Homo sapiens: one gene and its partners. The protein of the gene in region 5 interacts with the protein of the main gene of each other region in a pairwise test. Each region holds a gene or a part of one and is shown on either strand. Other genes may lie near its edges. The genes, in order: INPP5J, MAPK9, COPE, NME7, EFHC2, TBC1D22B and PLOD3.

Region 1 (4,222 bases), on a different chromosome or scaffold from region 5:
GGGCAGAGGTGGGGGCACAGTCTGGCCTGAGGGGGCCCCAGGCCGGAAGGTGGGGGACAGAAGTCCAGGGGAGTGAGTGCCAGGCTCTGAAGGACCCTGGCCCACATCCAAGGGCAAGGTCTGGGGTGGCCGTGGCAAAACAGGATCCTCAGGGCTGCTGTGGAGGGCCTCAGGCCGGGCTCGGAAGGAGGGGGAGAGCCGAGGGTCTGGGGAGGTTTGGATGCAGGGTGGGGAGCCTGTAGGACCAGATGTCTGAGCTGGAGGCTGGAGATGCCCCTCAGAAGCAGGGAGAGGTCTAGGGGCTGGGGCATCCCTCTTTCTAGCTGATGTCTGTCCCACAGAGGCTGCGCCTGATGCCGTGGATGCTGGAGCCAGGGCCTGTTCCTGAGTTGGAGACAGAACTGGACTGGGCACCGGGGAAGGGGTGGAGGGGAGTTCTGGGGGCTGCTCCTCAGAAGCCAGGGCCAGGCTCAGGCCAGAGGCTGCCAGTGTTGGCTTGGGTCCCACGGAGGCAGGTGGCTCCTGCTTCTGGTCTCTGGAGGTTGGGGCCAGATTGGGCCCCAGGGTGACTGGGGGAGATCTTGGCCCTGCTGAGGCAGGCATCACCAGCCCCAGGGACGTCGGAGCCAGAACTGAGCCTGTGGTCGCTGGGGGAGGCTTTGGTCCAGCTGAGGCAGACATCACCAGCTGGCCCACAGATGTTGGGGCCAGGCTGGAGCTGCGGTGGGCAGTAGCTGTTTTCTGCCCTTCAGGGGTACACAGTGGAGCCAGGATTGGTCGGGGAGATGCCAGAGCCAGCCTCGGTCCTTCCGAGGAAGCTGACATAGCTGCCCGTGGCCCTACAGGTGCCAGAGCCAACCTTGGTTCCGAGGGTCCTAGGGCTGCGTTCTTCTTTGCTGGGAGCTGAAAACTTGAGTCCACCTTGTGGAGGACAAGTCAAAGATTCAGAGTGACCCTAACCAGGGCATTGGGCCCCAACTTCCATATAGACCCTGGCAGAGTTCATCTAGCTAAGAAAGGCACATCTTTCCAAGGAAGTTCTTCCTACTATCTCACTTCAATCTATTCTGCTGCAGGTCAACTTCTGTCTTGGAGGAGATAGGACACAAAACCCTAACCCCTCCTTTAAGTCTGAAACCTCTTTCACAGATGGGGAAACTCAGACCCTGACTCAAATGAGGCAGAGTGTGAACCTAAACCTGAGGACTTGCCTTGCCTTCCTGGCTGGCACCCACACCCTGCCCATTCGGGGCAGCTTCCCTGGGCAACCCTCCCACTGCAGTCCCTGAAGCTCCCCCAGCCACGGCTACTGACCTGACATCCCAGGTCTGGGCACACTGGGGACAGCCTGTTTCTTTTCTTTTTCTATTGTCAAGATACAGACCTACAGGTGCAGCTTGTTAAATACCTCTCCCTTCCTTCATAATGCCCAGAAACCCTCAGTTCCCCACCGCCCCCTAAACATCCAAATCCCTTGGTTACAGCCCTCTCTGTTCTCTTACCCATTCCCAGAGCTCCACTCAGGAGCAAGAGCTGGGAGCTGAGACTGGCTGTGTAGATTCAAAGCCCAGCTCTGTGTGACCTTAGGCAAGTACCTCTCTGCCCAGCGCCTCAGTTTCTCTGTCTGTAAAATGAAGGGATGGGGTCTAGGGTTCCTGGCCACATTATATTCTGGGGAATCTTCATCTCCCATTGTCTGCATTTATGAGCCCAACATTTGCTAGAATTCCATCTAGCCCCGTTGAATAGTCCATCCTCACCAAGTGTGAATCTAGCATTCAGAGCAAGTCCAGGATTCTAAGTTGATCCTGGTGTCACATCTCTCTGTGCCCAGGTTGTGCCCTCTTACATCCTCCACTTTCTCCCCTACCTGAAAGGACAGGCAAGCAGGTATCCCATTTATGTCCGGCAGGTGGGAGGGGTGGGGAGTCACGGAGTCCTGTAGAGACCTATCCTCCTTCCCCATCTATTCTCTCTGATGTCCCCTGTCTCCAGAAGACAGGATAAAGTGTCCTTCACCAAGGAGGGCAGAAGAATGTCTATACTTGCCCCAGGATGGCCCTAGGTAGGGTAACAGGGCGCAGGGAGGCCCTGCCTCTGGAGACGCACTTCTGTTTCTGTCCCGTATCCTTCTCAGTTCAGAGTACCTAAAACTCCATCTCCACCTCCCTTCTCAAACTCAGTTCTTTGAGGTGGCATTTTAGGCACCCTCCTTGGCTCCAAGTGTCACACTGTGTGCCGGCTTCCCCCCAACTATCACACCGCCTCCAGTACTAACAACTTAGCCATCCCAGATGTCACAGTTTTAGTCTTCAGCGACAAGCCCCCTCATTTTGCATTGGCTCAGAGAGGAAAAGCAACTTGGCCAAGGTCACACAGCAAAGGTGGAGCACAGCTGGGTCCTCTGATACCCAGTCCAGGACTCTCCCAAGGGCTCCTGGAGATGGCTAACTTCATCTGTCTCCGGGCATCCTGTCACTGCCCCTCAGCCCCCAGGGTGCTCTCTTCACCTAGCCCCTGCTCGCTGAGCAGAGGAAAGTACCAGCCCCTCAGTCAGGAGCACCAGGGAGCCTGCAGTGTATGTGGGGGGGGTGTGTGGAACCAGGGATCAGGAAAGCGGGGGGCACTGGGTCTCAGGGGTCTTACCTTGGAGGGTGCCCCAGTTTGGGCAACACCCTGGGGCATGGGCAGGGAACCCAGGCCAGCCCGGGTCCCTGGCCTCCTGCTGCCCCTGCTGCTCTGGCCCTCCATGTCTGCAGCCCCCGGCAGCCTGGACTCCCTTGGCTCCGGCTCCAGCTCTACCGCTCCCGGGAACCAGTGATGTCATCAGCCATTTCAACCTGCTGAGAATTTAAAGGCACAGGCTCCCACTTCCCAGCCTGGAAGAGGCCGAAGCAAGGTGGCTACCCCCTGGGAATCCTTCAAACTGGCTGCTGAGGCTGGAACAGCCATGGAGTGGGGAGGGGAGAGTGTACCCATCTGCCTGGCCCAGGTCCCAACTGGCAGCAGGAAGGAGGCTGTCTGTCTACCTTCACCTTTCTGCCGTAGGCCTGGTCAGCCCTTTGCTCCAGGGAGGGGCATTAACACACCTGCCTTAAGGTAGGACAGGTGGTTCAGAGGTCTGCACCCTCTCCAGGGCCTCAGAGACAACTGAGTTCTTGCCCTGATCCTGTGACCTTCCTGGCTCCCTGCCAGCTCAGAGCTTGCCCCGGCCCCCACCCTTGCCCCATTTTCAGGTCTTGGTGCCACCCTCTCCACTCCTACTGCCAGTCCCAGGCTCTATTCTTCCCAACCCAGAACCAGACACTCAGGCTCCAGCCACTGCAGTCTTTTCCCATCTCAGGCCTCAGCACCAGCCCCTCCTCTTCTGCAGACACCTAGCTGCCCTCAGATGTCCCCACAGCCAGGCCTAACCCAGCCCGGCTTCTGTCAGCTTTCTTCTCTCCAGTATTCACTGGGTGTGGTTTGGGAGGGGAACTTGCTCAAGGTCACCTGGTGAACTGAGAAGGTCTCCTGTGTTTCAGTGAGAAAACTTAGTGACCTAGGATGAGCACAAGCCCTTCGAGCTATCTGGGGGAAGGGAACTTGGGTGGAGAAGGGCCCAGCAGTGGGGTAACAGACTGACAAGAGAGTTACAAACAGGCCTGAGAATTGCTACAGCCAGGACCCAGCCCAGGACATGGTCCCCAACAGGCCTACGGGAGTGTTTGTTGAATGAATAAATGAATTAGAAGAGTGAATGGGTGATGAGGGTCAGATTGGGCTGGGATGGCTGTGGGATCTGTTTCTCATGGCTTAGAGAGGAGTGATCCCACCCACTTTAGGCAGAAAGTGTTCAGAGTTGTGTGTGCAGAGCTCCCTGTTAACCAACATGGAGCATCTGCATGGGCCTGTGCAGTCTCCTACATGAAGGCAGATGCCTCACTTTCCTCTCCTGAAGGCACTTCCTACCTCTGCTTGACTGTCAGTAGGTCTAGTCTGTATTCTCAGGCCAGCATCTCTGCTGGAATTTGCAGGGGCAGAGACTCAGGCCATATTAGAGTGTTGGGGTAGAAAGGTCTTTGGACAGCGATAGTGGAGATGGTGACAGTGGTGACGGGGAAGGCGACTGTGGTGATGGATGTGATGATGTATGTAACTGTGATGATGGAAGTAGGGGGCTAGCAGTGGTTGTGGTGAAGGTGGTGGAGGTGATGGTGATGGCAAAGGTAGAGGTGATGAT
Region 2 (3,500 bases), on a different chromosome or scaffold from region 5:
GCCTCAGTGAAGGCTGTGGGGCTGTCATCAGGGCAAGCAGGAAGCCATTTCGACATTGACAACAGGTACAATTACACTGCCATGCTGCTAAGTGACCTGTTTCTAGGCTTCCTAGATTCTGTAAGATTTAAATGATAAACATATAATGTTTAAAAATGCAGTCACAATCTCTACCTGGCCCCAAAAAGAGGCCCCCAGCCCCTCCATTCCACCTTAGAGTACTGTGCAGACACCCCCGGTTCCCAGAAAGGCCTGAGAGGAAGAAACCGGGCTGCCTCCCTGCATGAAGGAAAGCCAGGGAGAAGCAGCCCACATTCAACCAGGGACGCTCCGCTGTGAGGACCAAGTCAGGGAGCTAAGACCAAATGAACGAATTCGCTTCTTGTTTCCTTTTTTAAAATCAAAGAGTATGACAAGAACAGGCATTTTAGAACATAAATTACTAACAGATAAAATAATGCTCAATCTCACAAAAATCTTCTTTAAAAACCCAAAATGAATGCCCATTTTTAGTCTATCACTTGGCAGCGATGGAAAGCAAGCAGACTCGGTGCTGGCGGGAGAAGCAGAAACAGGCGCTTCCTCAGGCCACAGAGGGTGTGCAGTGGGCACTTTCTCTCCAGGAGGCTGATTTCTGAGGTGTGAAATGCACACACTTCCCCAGCCAGCAGGCCCTGAAGCCCAGCCCACCCAGAACTAACAGCACGGCCGCAGGAGCAAGGAAGACAAGGACAGCCTGGTTCTACCAAGGACAGACGCAGCAGTGGAACCATCTCCACGGGCTGCCTGCCAGCTCTGTGAACCCCAGTGCGCCAGAAACACGCTCATCTGAAGACACTGCCATCTGTCAAAAAACTGTCATCACATACTAATTTAACAGGAAAAGCACACTTTACTGCCGTCTGCTGGAAGACTGTGGTGATAAAGTCCCAAGCTTGTGTGGGTGCTCTGTGTGGCCAATGGGGAGGTGGCTAAGGAGGTGCTCTCCCCGCACCCTGGGACCCTCTCTAGTCACCCCCGAAATACAACCTGAGGCAGCTTCCCAACACCTCACTTCAATTTCAAGACAGCAGAGGAAAGACAGTTCTGCCCCTTCAAGTCTTGAAAATCACTCAGAACAAAGAAGACAAATGCCAAGTACAGATCCAAGTGACGCCTGGATCGGGGCTTGGCTCCCAAAATGCCTGGAACCCAACGCTACCCTGTGGGCAGCAGTGAGGGTACCCACAGCACCCGCAGCATGAGTGGGGCAGGTGCTGACCTCCCCCACTGCCCGCTCAACTCTGGGATCCAGACCCACTGCTTGAGAGGTATCCCAGGAAGGAGCACATCATGACAGGTGTCCACTGTCTGGCCTTGCCGGTCCTTCCCCACAGGTACCTGTGGCCACCCACCGGGTAAGAACAGCCAGGCACTCTTGAGGATGAATGGACACAGCTCTAAGTAGACACTGAAACCCGAAGACCCCAAACACTCTCAGGGCTCCTCCACTTGCAGGGTTCGTGGGGTCAGGGGTCAGGGGTCAGGGCATAAGTGAAGTCTGGGCCAGGTCTCTTGCGGCCATGTTATGGGAGGGTGGGAACGTTAGCAAAGGCTTAGAGCAAGGCTGTGAGAGAACATTGCTGTCCAGCCTGCAGCAGTGTGGGCGCTGTCTGGGCCTCTCTTCTAATCAGTGTGGAGGATGCATTTGCCCCATCAACATGCCAGACCTGAGGCCTTATTAATCTGCTCCAGCAACAACTGCACCTTGACATGCACAGCAGCTGCGGCCAGGACTGCCAGTGCCGTAAGCCTGTGGCCGTCTGGGGTCATTCTCCAGAATCCATGCAGCTTCTTCAAGGGCTGGACTAACGAGTTAGACTGGGATGCAAGATACCACTGTCTCTGCTCCCCTGAGGCTTCCATGGTGGCCCTAGTCTCCTCCACCCACCCCGGGCCCTGCAGGGTGTGATCTTGTTTTTGATTTACTATCTTGGGGGCAGTTTCAGGTTTCCATTTGGCCTTCCCACTGTGACGACTCTTACTCACAGGCCAAGGAACTCGTGTGGGCGTTACTCCACCTGCCAAGCGCCTCCGCTCCGGCTACACACTGAGGACTGGGGAGACGGCCACTGGGTGGCCTGGGACCCTGTGGCCCACTGAGAGCCACCAGACACAGACGGCTCAGGAATGAAGGCCTGGGACACAGGCCAGGCAAGCCACAGAGGCCTGCCAATGTGAGAGCTGAGGGTATGAATAACAGGAAAGGGTAGGGAAAGAGCCAGCAGAGAGACCACAGTGACAGGGACTACAGGGTGTCCCACTAACCTCTGTCTTCCAGATTTCCCCTGAGGAAGAGAGAACCATGGGCGCCACAGGAAAGCCATTCCCAACTTATGTGGAGAAGTAGAGCTGAGGGGGCCAGGGTGGACTGTGGGGTCCACGGAAATGCACTCCTTGGTCTCCCGCCACAGGAGTGAGAGTGACAGATGGCCCAGTGTGGTGTCTGCACCTACCCTCTGTCCCTGCCAGGGCACACCTCCCACAGAGCCGTCAGCCAGGGGCCGACCGGGCAGGGATGCTGAGGCAGGCCCGTTCCTGTGTGACACCGGAGGCCCTCAGAGCTGCACCGCAGTCTGGACCAGGCCTCTGAGGGGCCAGGACTGCACTACGTTCAGCTAGCATTTGCTGCCTCCTCTGGCTGCTCCCCCTTCCTTCTCGCACAGGCCTCCTCCCGGCCAGTCCCTCGCCTGTCTAACCCACCGTGGCATGCGGAAGCCGCCCACGAAAAGCCCCACGCTACAGGGACAGGAAGCTGCAGGGCCGCCCAAATGCCCTAGCTGAGCGAAGGAAATGCCAACCTCTATAAATGGCCACGACACCCAGGAAAGGCTCAGCAAGTGAAATGCAGGTGCTATGGAGGCAGAAGAGGCAAGGGTAGCACTTGGAGAAGTTTTCATTTTATTGAAAGTCCAAGTACGTAGTAGATGTCCCAGATCCCCATCTCCATCCCAGAAGTGAGGCTCCACTCCTTCCTCACTCCTGCTGGCCCTTCACGCAGAGAAACTGATGCCCAGCTTCCAGGTGCAGGGCCACAGGCGCCGCATGCACAGTCCTGTGGGTACCAACAGGGAAGGCACGGTGAGGCCTGCCTGCAACAGGGCTGCCTGGTGAGTTTGCGCTCTGCCACATGAGAAGCACAGCCCTGTACCCCAGCAGCCAGGCTTACATCCCTCCACCAAGGGACTGAAGGGGCCTTTTCCAGAGAAATTAAATGGTGCCCAGAGAAAAAACCTACAGAAGGTGACACCTGTGGCTGCCTGTGGTCCAAGAGACACCCATTCTTTAACAATTTACCCATTCACTCAGTACTTCCAGTCAGCCTTTAATGCTTCAATCTCTTTTTTTTTTTTTTTTTTTTGAGACGAAGTCTCGATCTTGTTGCTCAGGCTGGAGTGCAATGGCACTATCTCAGCTCACTGCAACCTCCGCTTCCTGGGTTCAAGAAATTCTCCTGCCTC
Region 3 (3,500 bases), on a different chromosome or scaffold from region 5:
TCCATGGGCTGTGCTTCCAGATGGAGGGCCCTGCCCGGACTCGACACCCTGGAGGCATCAACACTCAGGAACAAGGCCCTAGAGGAGGGCCACGCACCCGCCCCTGCACCTGCACCTGCAGCAGAGCCCTGGGGCCACCCACTCTCTGCAGGCCCCCTCGTCCCCTCATCCCTCTCAGCCCCAGGTGGCTGTGACCACGAATTACTCGTGAGGCCTCTTGTTCTTGTTTTCCTGCCAACAGGAGCCAGCACCTGGACCAGCACCGAGTCGGCCGGCTCGCCGACAGTGTGACATCCCTATTTATTTTCTTTTTTGTGTGTGAGTCAGGGTCTGGCTCTGCCACCCAGGCTGGAGTGCAGTGGCACCATCACGGCTCACTGCAGCCTCCACCTCCCAGACTCAAGGGATACTCCTGCTTCCGCCTCCCAAGTAGCTGGAAACATAGGTGCATGTCACCATGCCTGGCTCGCCCTGCAATTCTAAGCCCTCTGTGGATGGAGGTGGGATGGGAGCAGATCCACAGCGACCATGAAATGCCCAGCTTGCAACTCACAGTGGAAGGCAGGCACTGCAGGGACAGCTCACGGGGAAGAACTGACACACTTTCTGTGACCAGTGCCCTGGACATGGCCCGGAGTCACATCCTAGGGTGGAGGGGGGCACCAACCTTGCAGGGCTTCAGCACCCCAACCCCAGAGGGCCCTGGAGGAGGGCCGGTATGGGGGGCCCGGGGAGGCCTGAGAGACTGGGCCCAGGGCCGAGACACAGAAGGCTTCGTGGGGGGTGGGGACACAGAAACCGAGCAGAGACAAAGCCGCTTTCTGCTCTGCCCTTGGGAACAGAGGGTTGCAGCCTGGGCACCGTGTCCTTGGATCTGCAGCCTGGTGCGCAGATGGGAGTGCCTCCCACACTGGGCAGGGGAGCTGGAGCCTGGACAGCAGGCCAGGGCCTCATTTCAGCACCACCTTTCTCTGCTCCCATGACGACAGCCAGCGAGGCCGTGCGCAGCCTGGAGATGTGGCAGGGGGCACTTGCCTCCCTGGGCTGGCCCCAGAGCAGGGAGGCCACTCACCACTCCAGGCTGTCCCCCTGGTGCAGCGCACGCAGGGCGGCATCCGGGTTCTGGTCGTGGAGATAGATGGAGGCGGCCATGAGCAGGAAGGTGGTGTTGGTCACGTCCACGCTCCTGCTCATCTCTCGGTCCAGCTCGGCCACGATGCTGTCCCTGCAAGACAGAGATGCTCACGACCCACAGCTGGGGTGGCCTCTGTGGGACCTCAGAGGGTCCCCTTCCTTGGAAGCAGACAGGTCCAGAGAGGGTGAGCCAGGCCCTGGGGGTGCAGAGCAGCAGCAGGCCGAGCATCGAGCTGTCCCGACATGTCCTCCCTCCGTTCCTATGAAGCACCTCTCATGCTGGGCCAGGCAAGGACCCGAGGCCGGGAGATGTGGGGTGGGGCGCTCCAAGGGGACATGAGGAGGCACCGTCAGTCTCACACCAACCTCACCCGCCTTCCTGAGGAGGCTGGTGGGCCCAGCTGGGACTCCTGACCATAACCCATCAACCCTGTGGGCTTCAAGGCCACGTCTTCTAGCAGGAGGTCGGCCTGGGTGCCGAGGGGCCGTGCAGAAGGATGGGAGCCCTGGGGCACCCCCACTGCCAGGGCAGCTGCCCTCAGTCCCTGAGAGCCCAGGGTGCTGGCTGCACCCTGAAGATGGCCAGTGTGCTGCGGGCCAGGGCCAGGCTTGAGCCCAGGCAAGGCTGAGGACCGGCTCAGCTCCGAGGGCACAGGTCACCCATGCCTCCATGTCCCTAACTGGACCCAGACCCTCCATTCCCCATGGCTATTGAGCAGCTAAAAAGAGAAGGCAGGTGAGGGGGCCACCCTAGACCAAAGCTGGTGTTCTTCTGGGTTCAAACGTGGCTCTGTGACCCCGTAAGCATCCACGCGCATCTGGGGGCTGTCTGCCCAGGGCCCGTGTCTGAGGTGTCACTGAGGGCATGGCATGTCTGATACCAACCAGGCTCCACTGAGGGCTCGCCACAGTGCCAGGTCCAACAGACAAGTGACTTCAGGTCTGAGTCTGTTTCCCCGTGCTGAGGGACCATGTTACAGGGATCATGCAGGGGAGGAGCAAGGAGCTCCCAAGACCATCTTACAAAGCTTCCTGAGGCTCCAGCACACAAGGGTGTATAAACACTGCCAGTTGTCGTAGCGTTGGTACTGTAATGTTGTCATCCTAAGGTGTTACAATTACCAATGGGGCCGGGTACTGTGGCTCACACCTGTAACCCCAGCGCTTTGGGAGGCCAAGGCAGGATCGCTTAAGCCCAGGAGTTCAAGACCACCCTGGGCAACATAGTAGGACCCCTTTTTCTACAAAAAAGTAAGAAAGTCAGCTGGGCCTGGTGGCGCCTGTAGTCCCAACTACTTGGGAGGCTGAGGCAGGAGGATGGCTTCAGCCCGGGAGGTTGAAGCTGCGGTGAGCTGTGGTCACACCTCTGCACTCCAGCCTGGGTGACAGAGGGAGACCATCTCAAAAACAAGCAACAGCAACAAAATCAATTACTGGGCGGATCGCTTGAGCCCAGGAGTTTGAGACCAGCCTGGGCAACATGGCAAAACCCCATCTCTCTTTTTTTTTTTTTGAGACGGAGTCTCGCACTTTCGCCCAGGCTGGAGTGCAGTGGTGCGATCTTGGCTCACTGCAAGCTCCGCCTCCCGGGTTCATGCCATTCTCCCGCCTCAGCCTCCCGAGTAGCTGGGACTACAGGCACCCGCCACCATGCCCGGCTAATTTTTTTTGTATTTTTAGTAGAGATGGGGTTTCACGTGTTAGCCAGGATGGTCTCCATCTCCTGACCTCGTGATCCGCCCGCCTCGGCCTCCCAAAGTGCTGGGATTACAGGTGTGAGCCACTGCGCCCGGCCAGGCAAAACCCCATCTCTAAAAAATATACAAATTAGCCAGGCATGGTGATGCGTGCCTGTAGTCCCAGCTATTCGGGAGGCTGAGGTGGGATGATCACTTGAGCCTGGGAGATCAAGGCTGCAGTAAGCCAAGATTGTGCCACTGTATGCCAGGCTGAACGACAGAGCAAGACCGTATCTCAAGAAAACAAAATCAAAACCAAAACCAATTACTAATGGATGCTCCTTGTCCCCGGGGCGTCCTGCCAATGAGGTCGCGGCTGTGCAGCCAGATGAACGGACCACAAGCCCCTGCCTGGACCGCCTGCTCTCCGGGGCTGCTTTTCTGTGATGCTCACAGCAGCTGCTGCTCCTGGGGGACCCAGGGTTCCCTGCCTTCACTCCAGCTGGTGAAGTAAGTGCAGGGTGGGAGAAACAGTGGCCCTGGGAGGTCACCTGTCTCAATGTCCTGGAGCTGCTGTGGCAAAGCACCACAGCCCGGGCAGTTAAGGACAACAGGGATTCGTTCCTCACAGCTCTGGAGGCCGTAAGTCTGAAGTCAAGGTGGCGGCAGGGCTGGCTCCAGCTGGAG
Region 4 (3,500 bases), on a different chromosome or scaffold from region 5:
TCTTGTTTAGTAGGAAACAGTGGTATTTGGAGAACGGAATAGTAAGTGGTTAATATAATGCCATAATTTTTTTCATGTAGCTTTTTATTTATTTTTGCTTTCCTTTTTCTGCCTTTTTATTCCCAATTCTTTCTCATTCACCAGTTATTCTTCTATTCGAGAAAGTATTTATTGAGTACTTTCCATATACTGGTAACTGGTGGGTATACATTGATTAATAAGATAGCACACAGTGGCCCCTAACTCATGGAATTTATGGAGAAAAACAGATATTGGAAAATAAATTACAAGTATAAGTTGGATTACAAAAGAAAAATGACAAGGTGAGGTGGAAGTTAGTAATAAAATAGAGTGATCTGAACTAGCCTGGGGTGGTGAGGGAAAGTCTCTTTGATGATAAAACTCTTTAATTGTTTTTTTCCTTAGTTTGAGAGAAAAACAGTTTACATGAATAAATAAACGAATGATGACCTCATATGATGATAAGTACTATGAGGAAAATTAAACTAAGTAATGCAATATTGGTTGGTTCCAAGAGCAAGTAGCCTTGAGTAGGACAATCAGGGACGGTCCTCATGAGGATGTGACTTTTAAGCTGAGATGTCAATGATAGAAAGCAGCTTGCCAGGTGAAACCTAGGAGAAGAGCATTCCAGGCAGAGTCAATAGTGAGCACAGAGGTGCATTAGAGGAACAGGAGGGAGATAGTGTGGCTGGGGCCTAGGGAATGAGAGGACAGCTGGAGGAGAAGAGATCTGAGAGGCAGGAAGGAGCCAGGAATACTGAGACTTATGGAACTTGGGAGGGATTTTGGATTTTATTCTAAATGCAGTAGTATTATACATCTTATATATTTTACCTATTCCATCAAAATATTTTATTTTCCTTGGATTTGCCTTAAACTTTTGCCATATTAATTTGGTCTCTTGGTGCTTATTTTTATCTTATCTGTAAAATTTATGATCTTATAAGCTTTGGGAAATATTTTTCTGAGCTTCTTTTGTCTTTGAACTTCAGAGACTCCTAATTTCATCCCTTATAGTTGCCATTTCATAATTTATTTTCCCATTTCTGGACTTATTTTTTGTTTCTATAATATCTACTCTAAGGTGTGGCGAGCAGAGCTACATATTCCAGATGGGTATGCATTATAGTTTCAACATGGGAGTTATGTTTGCTGCTGTGATCTTCACCTAGTACCTTTCTTGATGCTGCTATAGCATATGATTGAAGTATCTTACTTTCCAGAAGTATCTCCAGCATTCCCAATGAACTTTGTATTCACATTTTTTTCAAAAACTGCCTAAACTTCTTCACTTCCAAAGTTGTCAATATTTAAAACTTTCTGTTAATTAGATGTGAGAAACTGTAGCTATTAAAATGTACTGCTTAATTCACATTTATTTTCTGATACTGGACACTTTGCCTTAATAAGTTGCTGTTGTTCTCTCTCCTGACTCATCTTATGTGCTGTGCCTTCTTCATATTTCTATACTCTTTAAAATGTATCTTCATATGCACACATAATGGCTCTAGAGCTCTCTGATAGATGTAAATTCAACTTTTATCCTTTGTTTTCCATAGTTTCAATATTTACATGATACATATATATGCTATATATGTTTTATATATGTTTATAAAGATATTTAACTTATTCTGTTGTAGAAATATAGGAAAATTACTTAGTCATTTTTAGAAATGAGAAAATATAAAAGTAAAAGTAATAAAATTACATTTATCTATAATAACACTGCCTGTATACAATCGCTATTAATATTTTTGTGTAATATCCTGGTCACATATATACTCATACATATATACACACACACACAGAGATACATATCCTTTAAAATATGATTCTATTATATTCATTGTTTAGAAATCTGTTTTATCCCACTTAATATATCTTTTGCATTTTTCCAGATCAGTTTTAAGAACTACAGCCAGCCCTGGGTAGCCATGGGTTCTGCATCCAGATTCAACCAATTGAGGATTGAAAATATTTGAAAAAAAAAAATAACAATACAATGATAAAAAATACAAATAAAAACAAAGCACTATAACAAGTATTTACATAGCATTTGCATTGTATTACGTGTTGTAAGTAATTTAGAGATGAATTAAAATATACTGGAGGATATGCATAGGTTATATGCAAATGCTATATCATTGTATGTAAGGGACTTGAGCGTCTAAGGATTCTGGTATCTGTAGGAGTCCTGGAACCAATCCCCTGCAAATACTGAGGGACAGCTCTACGTTTTATTCTTTCATTTACTCTGATTTAACCAATCCATTTATTAATTTGTTCTGTTAACACAATACTAACATATTTTTGCGAACACATTTTTATAGACATCCATAATTATTTCCTTACAATAAATTAAAAAGGAAATAACTAGGTGCGAGAGGTCATGTGCATTTTTAGGCTTTCAATATACATTGCCAGACTACTCCCAAAATAGTTTTGCCAGTGAATACTCTGCTAGCAGTATACCATGGTGCCTGTTTCTTCTAAACTCTAAACTGGTATTTCTATACATTACATACATATGTCTAACAATAGATTTGAACTTTTAATAAAACTGTCACCTGCTTTGCTCAGAATATTGAGAGAAATATAAATTACTGTATGTTCTATAGATGAAAGGCACTGTTAATACTTACCTACAATATTTCTTTGTAATTATTGTTTTACATCTATTATAAATTGTTAAAATTCAAGGTTTATTGTCTGACTGTAGTGAAGAATATTAAGTTGGCCTTTTTTTAACTATTATTTGTAGACAGATTTTCCAGTCCTCTCTTGTGTACTTATTTTCAAGATGTAGCTTGTTGAAGTACAAACAAACTGATGTAGAGCTAGAAATCTAAAATTTCAGTCTTTATTCCAGTCCTGGCTTAAGCACTTATGAGCTGTGTGTTATGTAATCTTTTTGGATAGTTATTTTCTCATCCATAAAATCAAAATAATACTTTCTGTTTAGATTACCTTAAAGCATTTTTTGTGAAGATCAAATAAGTTAATATGAAAGTAATTTATAAACTGTAATATACATATGAAATGTGTTATTTTCATATTAACCAGATTGCTGCCTAATGAGAAGATAGTTGAGGAAAATGGAAGAGATTAAAATATCAACCTTCAAAAATAAATATTTGAGGTTAATGGTGTTATGCAATTTTGTGGCTATTGAAAAATTTACTTTTATATATTAAATTCCCTCTTCCTAAATTTCTCTTATAGATTCATTTTCCTAATGGAAATAAGAAAAAGCTGGTAAAAGGGAGGGAAATGGCAGAGATTGGTCTTGAGACCAGTTTCAATAATGGTCATATACTTTTGTGGATAGGGGCAGCTAAACATGTGTGATATGTATTTAGCAGGTATTAGGTGTGAGATCCCTGAATATCTACTCAATTTAAATGGATTAGCTGGGAACATTTACTTTTATTGCTGGTCATGTGAGATTTTATTATTCAGTAATTTGACTGTGAAAG
Region 5 (2,151 bases):
GCTTGGCACTGTCAGTTGCCTTAAAAAAAACCTGGGACAAAAATCAAGTAGTCAAATTTAGGATTTATGGTAGATAGTTTTAGTATATAAATTGAGTATACTAGTTTAGTGTTAAGTCCTGAAAGGGTTGGGAGGAGCGTCTATTCTAACAATAGCACATGTGGAATTATCCTAGGCTTACATATAGAAATCGTTTATTGATTAACTCCAATTTTTTAAAAATGAAAGGGCCATTGTTGTGGAGAATAAATTGGTACATTTGAGTGCCAAGAAGCCAGCAAGACACTGCTGCAAATGTGGAGTGAAAGAATAATGAGTCCGAAGGGTCCCTTGAGATGTCATCAGCTCTTCTTTTTCTCAGGGTAGTCCCTGAAAGGTAAATGGTGCAGCTCCTTTTTGAGACCTCCATTGTCTCCCAGAACACCAGGCAAATGGATTTATGATACATAGCATCCAACACTGAACAATGGCATAGACTGGGATAGACTTCTTACACTGAATTCCCAGAGGTACATGGCTATGGGTTTTAATCAAATGTACACTACATGACAAGAGTTCTGCTGAAGAAAAATAAAAATAGAACTAGAAAAATGCAGGGGAAAAATGTTGTAGTTTCTGAATATTTAAACCTCTAGGGTGGGGCGCGTGGGATGTGTGTGTAAAACAAACCAAAAAAAAAACAAAAATCTCAAAATCTTCAGCTTTCACATTTGTAAATATTTTAGACATAATAAAGTTTTGGTCAAACTATAATTATACACACATGCATATATTCCTAAGCTAACAAGCTGACTTTAGATAGAAAAAAGGGCATTACAAATATAAATACTGCATATGTTTCCAGTGTGTGTGCACGTGCGTGTGTGTGTGTGTGTGTGTGTGTGTTGGAGGTTCTTTTTCTTCCCATAGCTTTACTAAGTTCAAAAGATAAATATATTTACTCTAGAGAGGTTTAAGAATTATTTTGATGAGGTGGGTTGCTACAAAACTTAATTATGTAAGTAATAAACGTGTCAAAAAGGTTTCAAAAATGTTTAATAGAATCACAACTTATTGCTGTGATATAATTTGATTTTGTATTGTCATGTATAACCTTCAAAAGTCATTTTCTGTTCATATAGTAATGAATCAAATTATGTTGGATCAAAAATTATCAGAAGATTTTTTGGTATTAATAAACCATACATATAATAAAAATATTCAACATGTTTTAAGATGGCATTTTAAATAGTAACAGTACGTCGGCAATGTAACATGATGTTCTGTAAAACTAACATGACAAAATAGGATTAATTGTGGTTTATGGATTTCCATTTAATATAAACCTTGTTTCTTTTTTGTTTTTAATGAAATTATATCTACTAAAGTAAATGTGGCAAAATGAGAGAAGTAAATCATAGAGAATTGACCAAAACTGGCATGGTTATTCCTCCTCTAAGCCAAACGCGTCCTTCAAAAAGGTCCAGTAGTCAATGTATTTCGCAGGAATAGGTGATGGCATACCAAGCCAAACATCTTCACATCTCTAGAAAAAAACCAAAAATGGATATGATTAGAACCACATTTCAAAGTACAGTTTTGAAAATTCAACACCAGTTTATTTGCAAAGTGAAAATTTCTACCATCTACTTTAGGTTCATAAGGACTTTGTGGTCTACTGGATACTTGTTCTTGATTCTTCATTCCCTCCCTGTATAAGAATTATGTGCCCACACTCTTTGTCATATGACTCTGTAGAACCTCCTGTGGAGTAAGAAGGGTATATTTTCCTGTTCCTTTGATATGGGGTTGGCCACATGACTGGCTTTGACCTATGTACTATTAGCAGACATATCATGGACAGAGGCTCTAGCGTGCTGGCATCATTTGGCTTGGCCTTCTGTGCCTCTGCCATCACCATGAAAAGAACATGGCCCAGGATGCTGCTGTTCTTAGAATGACCAAGGTGGATCAGACCAGGCTGGACTTGCGGACTAAGAGCCAAGCTTAGCTGAATCCAGCCATGCTTCACTGACCTACATGCCCATAGACAAGAAAAAGAAATGTGTCTTGTTGTGAACCATTGAAATTTAAGGAGTTGTTATGCAGCATGAATACGCTGATAGATCCTCCTATACTTTCTTAAGAACCCAATTTTTATTTTTATTTTAT
Region 6 (3,500 bases), on a different chromosome or scaffold from region 5:
TAGTTTAGTCTAAGGCAGTGTTTTCCTTCCCATTCCACACCACAGAGCACATAAGGAATGATGACACTGCAGATGACACCACAAAGCACAAGGCTGCAATAAATGGAGGTGGTTGCTCTCCACAAGCCCCAGAACCCCCAGCTGCTCCAAGGACTAAAAGGATCAATATCCCCGCACATCCTGTACCCGGTTCTTGGCCCACCAGTGTGCCCTGCACAATGGTGAGAAGCTCTGGCCTAAGGCAATCCTGCCTTTGGTGGCTGCGGTTCCTTTGTGCTCCTACATTTCCCACCAAAATCAACCAGTTCTTAATTCTGCCAAGATATGACTGAAATAACAAACAAAGACTCAAACTGAACTCTGTCTTGTTCTTGACATTTCTACACTAGATAGTGGGTAGGGGGAATAAGCAGTAGAGGACTCACGTATATTGAGTGCTTCATATGTATAAGGCATATAGGTCACTTTTACATATGATCTCTCATTTGATCCTTAGAACATATGGTAGGAATGTATAACTATTTTACAGACAAGAAACTGCAGCTCAGGGAGGTTAAATAACTTGCAAGTGAGAAGTGAAAAACCACCTTAGGTAAGCCTGACTCTAAAACTCTTGTATTACCACAAGCAAAACTCAGTTTTTAATTCTAGCTGTGCTTACATGACTGTTTCATATTCTTTACACGGCTGGGCCTTAAAAAGTAGTAGTCACAACAAAAATTAAACAGTGACTATCAACCAACCAGCACTACTAGAAGGTTTACAAAAACAACTTCCACGAGGCAGTTGGCTGGGATGCCTAGTGTAACGAGGGGACTAGAAAATGCAGACACACACTGCAAAGCTGAGACAGAGGTAAATTTCATATTACCTATTTACAGACAGATGCAGTGACTATCAACCAACCAGCACTACTAGAAGGTTTACAAAAACAACTTCCATGAGGCAGTTGGCTGGGACGCCTAGTGTAACAAGGGGACTAGAAAATGCAGACACACACTGCAAAGCTGAGACAGAGGTAAATCTCATATTACCTATTTACAGACAGATGCCGGCAGGAGAAAACCTCCTCAGGGAGAATGCTCTGGGCTGGGCGGGGGAGGTCCTGGCTGCACAGGGCAGCTCATCATGGATCACGGTAGGGGCCTTCCTCACACTGGAAACCTCTGGAGACCCTCCATCACAGTGTGTAGACACCTTCCACGGCCTGCAGCTGTGGCCACCTGGTCCAGTAACACTGAATGCCTATCTGTGCATGGCACTGAAGGTTCATGCTAGAGCCCAAATCAGTGATGGAAAATAACTGTGCAATGATTGCAAAGACCTTACAGCCACGAAAAAGTTCCCTCAGAACATGAGCCAGGGTACACTCCAGGGCTCTGATGTTCTTCTACTTCCTTTTCATCCTGTACCAGCTCACTGCTTTAACTCTCACTGCGATGACAAAGCTTCCCTCTCCAGCTCCCAACATACTTTATAAAACCCATTAGGGCAACATTAAACATAACCATGAATATTTAAAGGAATACACTGAGAGTCCCCAAAAGCTAATAAAACCACCAACACATCAACCATTACTGTGGCCAGTTTCCCGAAAAGAAACAGAGAGGCCTCTACTTCTACCCCACCCAACCTGATGGGACCTGCCTGATGGTCAGGAAGCTGGGACCTGGGGCCTTTAGGCACATTTGCTCCCTCCCTCAGGAACAGGAAAAGACAACCTTATGCTAGTGGCTGTTCCCTAGGGCTGAGAAAGTCAAACCACAGTGCCAAACAATTGTGAAATTCAGCCACTAACAGCTTTAAATACATCAGTTACTATTTCTAAACCTGACCAGGCCTAAAGCAATGTGAAGCAATCAAACCAGAGAAGTTGTGGACTCCACCACAGGGAAAGGAAGAAGAGAAGAGGAGAATGGCAAACAACACCTGGGTGTCAGAGAGTGAAGGCCCAGGTCACCAGACTGGGCAGCCACCACTGTGGGAGGGGCAAGTATAGCTTGTGACCACTCAGGCTTAATGATGTCACATCTCAGGCTTGAGTTTATTTACCGCCCAGTTGAATATCTACCTGAGTGAGGCCCCAAAGAAAAATCGCTTTTATTTAAAATGCACGCTGCTGAGAAGGCTGAGGCTATGAAGGGAGCAGGAAGGACTTACTAGAGTTTCTGGACAGCTGGGCATCACTGCTGGACTTTATGACCTTGTAGTTGGCAGGGACGTCCGATGTCGTTGACTGGGACCGTTCTGGTTTTACTCTCAGCTTGCTGTGGTTTTCTAGAACTTGGGCTGCAGTTGCCAAAGCAACTTTTGAGTTCAGAGTTTGGAAAGAAGGTGAGGAAAAGTCCTCTTCCTCATCATCGCCAATGTCCCAAGCATCACTGGTATTCCGTGCAAACTCATGAAAACTGGAGGCCTTCTTATTCTTCAGAGGAACTGTGTTGACTTTTGATCGTTCTTTAATGAAACTTCAAGAAAGGAGACACGATTACCAAGGAATGGCCTGACACATCTGACCACCTACATTTGCTTATTATTGTAATATTAATAAATTACAAACTACCACATACATAATCATTAGCTTCTTCAAACAAAAATTGCCCACATCCATTCTTCATCTAGATACATCCAGACCAGCCTGAGATCGCAGAGACAGATGTAGCAGAGACAGCAATGGTCACCAAATATCCCATGTGCTCTTGTATACTTCCTGGCCCCCATACACTTAGGTGAGGCCATATGACCAATACCGGCCAATGGACTGAGGAGAAATGAGGCGATTACTTCCAGGCAAAGTAGAGAATAGGTGTCAGTTCTGTATAACCTCTCTCTTTTTTTTTTTTGAGACAGAGTTTCTGTCACCTAGGCTGGAGTGCAGTGGTATGATCATGGCTCTCTGCAGCCTTGACCTCCTGGGCTCAAGTGATCCTCCCACCACAGCCTCTTGAGTAGCTGGGACTACAGGTGTACACCACGATGCCTGGCTAATTTTATTATTATTTTTTGTAGACACAAGGTTTCACTATGTTGCCCAGGCTGGTCTTGAACTCCTGGGTTCAAGTGATCCTCCCACCTCGGCCTCCCAAATCGTTGGGGTTACAGGTGTGAGCCACCATGCCTGATCCATAGCTTTTCTTCTATCATGATGCACTGGCAAGATGGTAGAACCTCCTTCAGCCTAGGTAACTGAGTGGCTATGTGGAGCAGCAGTAACTATGTCGAGGAGCCTGCCCTCTGCCCTTACCCCACCCCCATTTTAGACATGTAGCATGAGCAGGAAATAAACCTTTACTATGTTAATCCACAGAGATTTGACAGTTGATCTGCTATCACTTAGAGCAGCACATAAACTACTGGCAGAAAACAAGATAATTTTAGGTAGTCCACATATGTAGCATTAAACATTAAGTCCCAAAATAAAAAAGTTGTTCCATTTTTTATTCTGTTAAAAGTTCTTCTGCTGGCCTTGAGAAGAAAGTTGAAGTTTGGTGCTACTCTGT
Region 7 (3,500 bases), on a different chromosome or scaffold from region 5:
ACAGGCATGAGCCACTGTGCCCGGTCTACTTCTGTGATTCCATTTAACAAAGGGAAGGTCCCTGGTTATCCTTCTTGTACAGATGAGGAAAACAGCTTGTGGAGGGGTTGGTGACTTGCCTCAGGGGATGGGGAGAACGGGGAGAGAGAGAGGCCAGGCACGGTGCCTCACGCCTGTAATCCCAACATTTTGGGAGGCCCAGGCAGGAGGATCACTTGAGGTCAGGAGTTTGAGACCAGCCTGGCCAACATGGCGAAAACCCGTCTCTACTAAAAAAAAGTACAAAAATGAGCTGGGCGTGGTGGCGGGTGCCTGTAATCCCAGCTATTCAGAAGGCTGAGGCAGGAGAATCACTGGAACCCGGGAGGCAGAGCTTGCAGTGAGCCGAGATTGCGCCACTGCACTCCTGCCTGGGTGACAGAGTGAGATTCCTTCTCAAAAAAAAAAAAGGCCAGGTGCGACAGCTCACATCTGTAATCCCAGCACTTTGGAAGGCTGAGGCGGGCAGATCATGAAGTCAGAAGTTTGAGACCAGCCTGGCTGACATAGTGAAACCCAGTCTCTACTAAATATACAAAAATTAGGCTGGGTGTGGTGGCTCATGCTTGTAATCCTAGCACTTTGGGAGGCCGAGGCAGGTGGATCACCTGAGGTCAGGAGTTCAAGGCCAGCCTGGTCGACATGGTGAAACCCTGTCTCTACTAAAAACACAAAAATTAGCCGGGCATGGTGGTGCGCGCCTGTAATCCTGGCTACCCGGGAGGCTGAGGAAGGAGAATCGCTTGAACCCTGGAGGTGGAAGTTGCAATGAGCCAAGATCGTGCCACTGCACTCCAGCCTGCGTGTTGGGAGTGAGACTCCATCTCAGCATAAAAAACAAAAAATACAAATACAAAAATTAGCCAGGTGTAGTGGCATGTGCCCATAGTCTCAGCTACCTGAAAGGCTGAGGCAAGAGAATCTTTTGAACTCAGGAGGCAGAGGTTGCAGTGAGCCGAGACCACGCCATTGCACTCCAGCCTGGGTGACAGAGTGAGACTCCATCTCAAAAAATAAAAATAAAAAAAAAAAAAAACAAGGAGAGAGAGAATATGAGGAGGGGTAGGGATGCTGAGGCTCCTACTGGCCTCCCGCTCAGCTCACCCTCCCCTTCCTCGCCCAGCTGCGGTGTGATCACGCAGGTAGTAGGCAGTGGAGCTCTCTGGGCCAGCAGCCTGGTCAGAACCCAAAGGTTCCTGCCCACAACGAGCCACACTCCAGGATAGCCCTGGTGTCCCTTTATTCCCTGGAGAATTTGGGACCCCATATTTAGAAGAATGTGTTGCTTGGTAGCTCCCAGAGAAAGGGGGTCTGAAGCCTGGCCTTTTTCTTCCCCAGATGAAGTGGTTTTAAAGTTTGATCGGAACCGTGTGCGTATCCGGAACGTGGCCTACGACACGCTCCCCATTGTGGTCCATGGAAACGGTCCCACTAAGGTGCCACCAGTGGTCTCAACCCCCGCCCCGCCCTGCCCCAACCCCCAGGCACCTCCAACCCTTCTGAGAAGCTGGCCCTTCCCAGCCCCCATATCAGAGGTGCCTGACCCCCACCTCCACCCCTGGAGGCCTCAGCCACTCAGCCTCAGTCTGTCCCCAACAGCTGCAGCTCAACTACCTGGGAAACTACGTCCCCAATGGCTGGACTCCTGAGGGAGGCTGTGGCTTCTGCAACCAGGACCGGAGGACACTCCCGGGGGGGCAGGTGAGGTGGGGGTGCCAGGGAGGGGCACGAGAGGGCAGCGTGCTGAGCAGGAGGTACAAGGACAGCGGACTGGGGGGCGGTGGGGGCATCGCTCCTGGGTCCCTGCACCTGTCAGGGTGGAGGTTGGGTGGGGGCAGCAGGGAAGTCCGGGCTTCTCTCTGAGTCCCTGCGTGTTGCATCTTCCAGCCTCCCCCCCGGGTGTTTCTGGCCGTGTTTGTGGAACAGCCTACTCCGTTTCTGCCCCGCTTCCTGCAGCGGCTGCTACTCCTGGACTATCCCCCCGACAGGGTCACCCTTTTCCTGCACAACAACGTGAGACTCCCCTGTTGGAGCCTCTCCTGAGGGACCCTTTCCCTGCCCTGATCAGAACTCTCGTGCCCCCACCCCCATCTCCTTCCTGCACCCCCATCCCTCAGGTGCCGCCTCCCTGCCCTCTGAGCCCATCCCCCTATGTCTTCCCCTCCCAGGAGGTCTTCCATGAACCCCACATCGCTGACTCCTGGCCGCAGCTCCAGGACCACTTCTCAGCTGTGAAGCTCGTGGGGCCGGAGGAGGCTCTGAGCCCAGGCGAGGCCAGGGACATGGCCATGTGAGCGGGTGCTTGCGGGGAGGAGAGGGTGGGATGAGGCTGTAGGGTCAGGGGTGCTGCCACCTGCTGCCTGGCCCTTGCCTCACCTGTCACCCATCCAGCCCCTCCTGGGCCTCCCCATTCGCATCCTTGCAGCCCCCATGCTGTCACTCCTGCCCTTGCCAGCTCACCCAGACAGCAGAGAGCCTGGGGAAGGAAGGATAGACACTGCCTCCCTCCTCTTCTCCTGGGGGCATGGGCCAGTTACCCCATCCACACCGCCTCCCCACCTGCCGCCGTCTCAGCTCGCCTCTCACCTCCAGGGACCTGTGTCGGCAGGACCCCGAGTGTGAGTTCTACTTCAGCCTGGACGCCGACGCTGTCCTCACCAACCTGCAGACCCTGCGTATCCTCATTGAGGAGAACAGGTGGCTTACCCCCTCTCCCCGCAGCCGGAGGGCACCCCAACAGGCCCCGGGAACCCCACTCCTGCCCTGGGCACCGGGCTCCCCAGGCCTGCTCCCGTCTGCCCAGCCCTCACCCCCACCTGTCCGCAGGAAGGTGATCGCCCCCATGCTGTCCCGCCACGGCAAGCTGTGGTCCAACTTCTGGGGCGCCCTGAGCCCCGATGAGTACTACGCCCGCTCCGAGGACTACGTGGAGCTGGTGCAGCGGAAGCGAGTGTGAGTCCCGCCAGCCTGCAGCCCCCCGCCTCCTCCGACCCGGGGCCCAGGTAGACCCAAGCCCCCTACTCTCAGGGGTTTGGAGTGGTCACCAGTCAGAGGTGCCATGAGGCTGGCTGCAGTGGCTCACACTTTTGATGCCACCACTTTGGGAGGCTGAGGTAGGAGGACTGCTTGAGCCTGGGAGTTTAAGATCAGCCTGAGCAACGTAGCAAGAGCCTATCTCTACAAAAAACTTAAAATATTAGCTGGGCACGGTGGTGCGTGCCTGTGGTCCCAGCTACTACGGAGGCTGAGGTGGGAGAATCACTTGAACTTGGGAGGTTGAGGCTGCAGTGAGCCATGTTTCCACCACTGCACTCCAGCCTGGAAACAGAGGGAGACCCTTTCTCAAGAAAATAAAAAACAAGGGCCGGCCGCGGTGGCTGACGCCTGTAATCCCAGCACTTTGGAAGGCAGAGGCAGGTGGATTACTCGAGGTCAGGAGTTCGAGACCAGCCTGGCCAACA

Evidence for each region.
Region 1: the proteins of EFHC2 (region 5) and INPP5J interact in binary tests that used the Homo sapiens proteins (3 or more experiments, as listed by UniProt).
Region 2: the proteins of EFHC2 (region 5) and MAPK9 interact in binary tests that used the Homo sapiens proteins (3 or more experiments, as listed by UniProt).
Region 3: the proteins of EFHC2 (region 5) and COPE interact in binary tests that used the Homo sapiens proteins (3 or more experiments, as listed by UniProt).
Region 4: the proteins of EFHC2 (region 5) and NME7 interact in binary tests that used the Homo sapiens proteins (3 or more experiments, as listed by UniProt).
Region 6: the proteins of EFHC2 (region 5) and TBC1D22B interact in binary tests that used the Homo sapiens proteins (3 or more experiments, as listed by UniProt).
Region 7: the proteins of EFHC2 (region 5) and PLOD3 interact in binary tests that used the Homo sapiens proteins (3 or more experiments, as listed by UniProt).

The regions. Positions count from the first base shown.
Region 1 is NC_000022.11:31,121,544-31,125,765, reverse strand, and holds the start of INPP5J (phosphatidylinositol 4,5-bisphosphate 5-phosphatase A), read right to left. Parts: upstream 2,801-4,222; 5' UTR 2,752-2,800; coding exon 2,647-2,751; intron 1,871-2,646; exon of another isoform or gene 1,761-1,870; intron 1,625-1,760; exon of another isoform or gene 1,503-1,624; intron 922-1,502; coding exon 1-921. UniProt on the Homo sapiens protein: Inositol 5-phosphatase, which converts inositol 1,4,5-trisphosphate to inositol 1,4-bisphosphate.
Region 2 is NC_000005.10:180,250,584-180,254,083, forward strand, and holds part of MAPK9 (mitogen-activated protein kinase 9), read right to left. Parts: intron 1-3,500. UniProt on the Homo sapiens protein: Serine/threonine-protein kinase involved in various processes such as cell proliferation, differentiation, migration, transformation and programmed cell death.
Region 3 is NC_000019.10:18,905,888-18,909,387, forward strand, and holds part of COPE (coatomer subunit epsilon), read right to left. Parts: intron 1,226-3,500; coding exon 1,073-1,225; intron 49-1,072; coding exon of another isoform or gene 1-48. UniProt on the Homo sapiens protein: The coatomer is a cytosolic protein complex that binds to dilysine motifs and reversibly associates with Golgi non-clathrin-coated vesicles, which further mediate biosynthetic protein transport from the ER, via the Golgi up to the trans Golgi network.
Region 4 is NC_000001.11:169,357,798-169,361,297, reverse strand, and holds part of NME7 (nucleoside diphosphate kinase homolog 7), read left to right. Parts: intron 1-3,500. UniProt on the Homo sapiens protein: Possesses an intrinsic kinase activity. Displays 3'-5' exonuclease activity with a preference for single-stranded DNA. Does not seem to have nucleoside diphosphate kinase activity.
Region 5 is NC_000023.11:44,147,372-44,149,522, forward strand, and holds the end of EFHC2 (EF-hand domain-containing family member C2), read right to left. Parts: intron 1,526-2,151; coding exon 1,424-1,525; 3' UTR 501-1,423; downstream 1-500. UniProt on the Homo sapiens protein: Microtubule inner protein (MIP) part of the dynein-decorated doublet microtubules (DMTs) in cilia axoneme, which is required for motile cilia beating.
Region 6 is NC_000006.12:37,278,272-37,281,771, reverse strand, and holds part of TBC1D22B (TBC1 domain family member 22B), read right to left. Parts: intron 2,469-3,500; coding exon 2,161-2,468; intron 1-2,160. UniProt on the Homo sapiens protein: May act as a GTPase-activating protein for Rab family protein(s).
Region 7 is NC_000007.14:101,211,082-101,214,581, reverse strand, and holds part of PLOD3 (multifunctional procollagen lysine hydroxylase and glycosyltransferase LH3 precursor), read left to right. Parts: intron 1-1,377; coding exon 1,378-1,475; intron 1,476-1,638; coding exon 1,639-1,740; intron 1,741-1,926; coding exon 1,927-2,052; intron 2,053-2,207; coding exon 2,208-2,329; intron 2,330-2,631; coding exon 2,632-2,736; intron 2,737-2,865; coding exon 2,866-2,991; intron 2,992-3,500. UniProt on the Homo sapiens protein: Multifunctional enzyme that catalyzes a series of essential post-translational modifications on Lys residues in procollagen. Plays a redundant role in catalyzing the formation of hydroxylysine residues in -Xaa-Lys-Gly- sequences in collagens.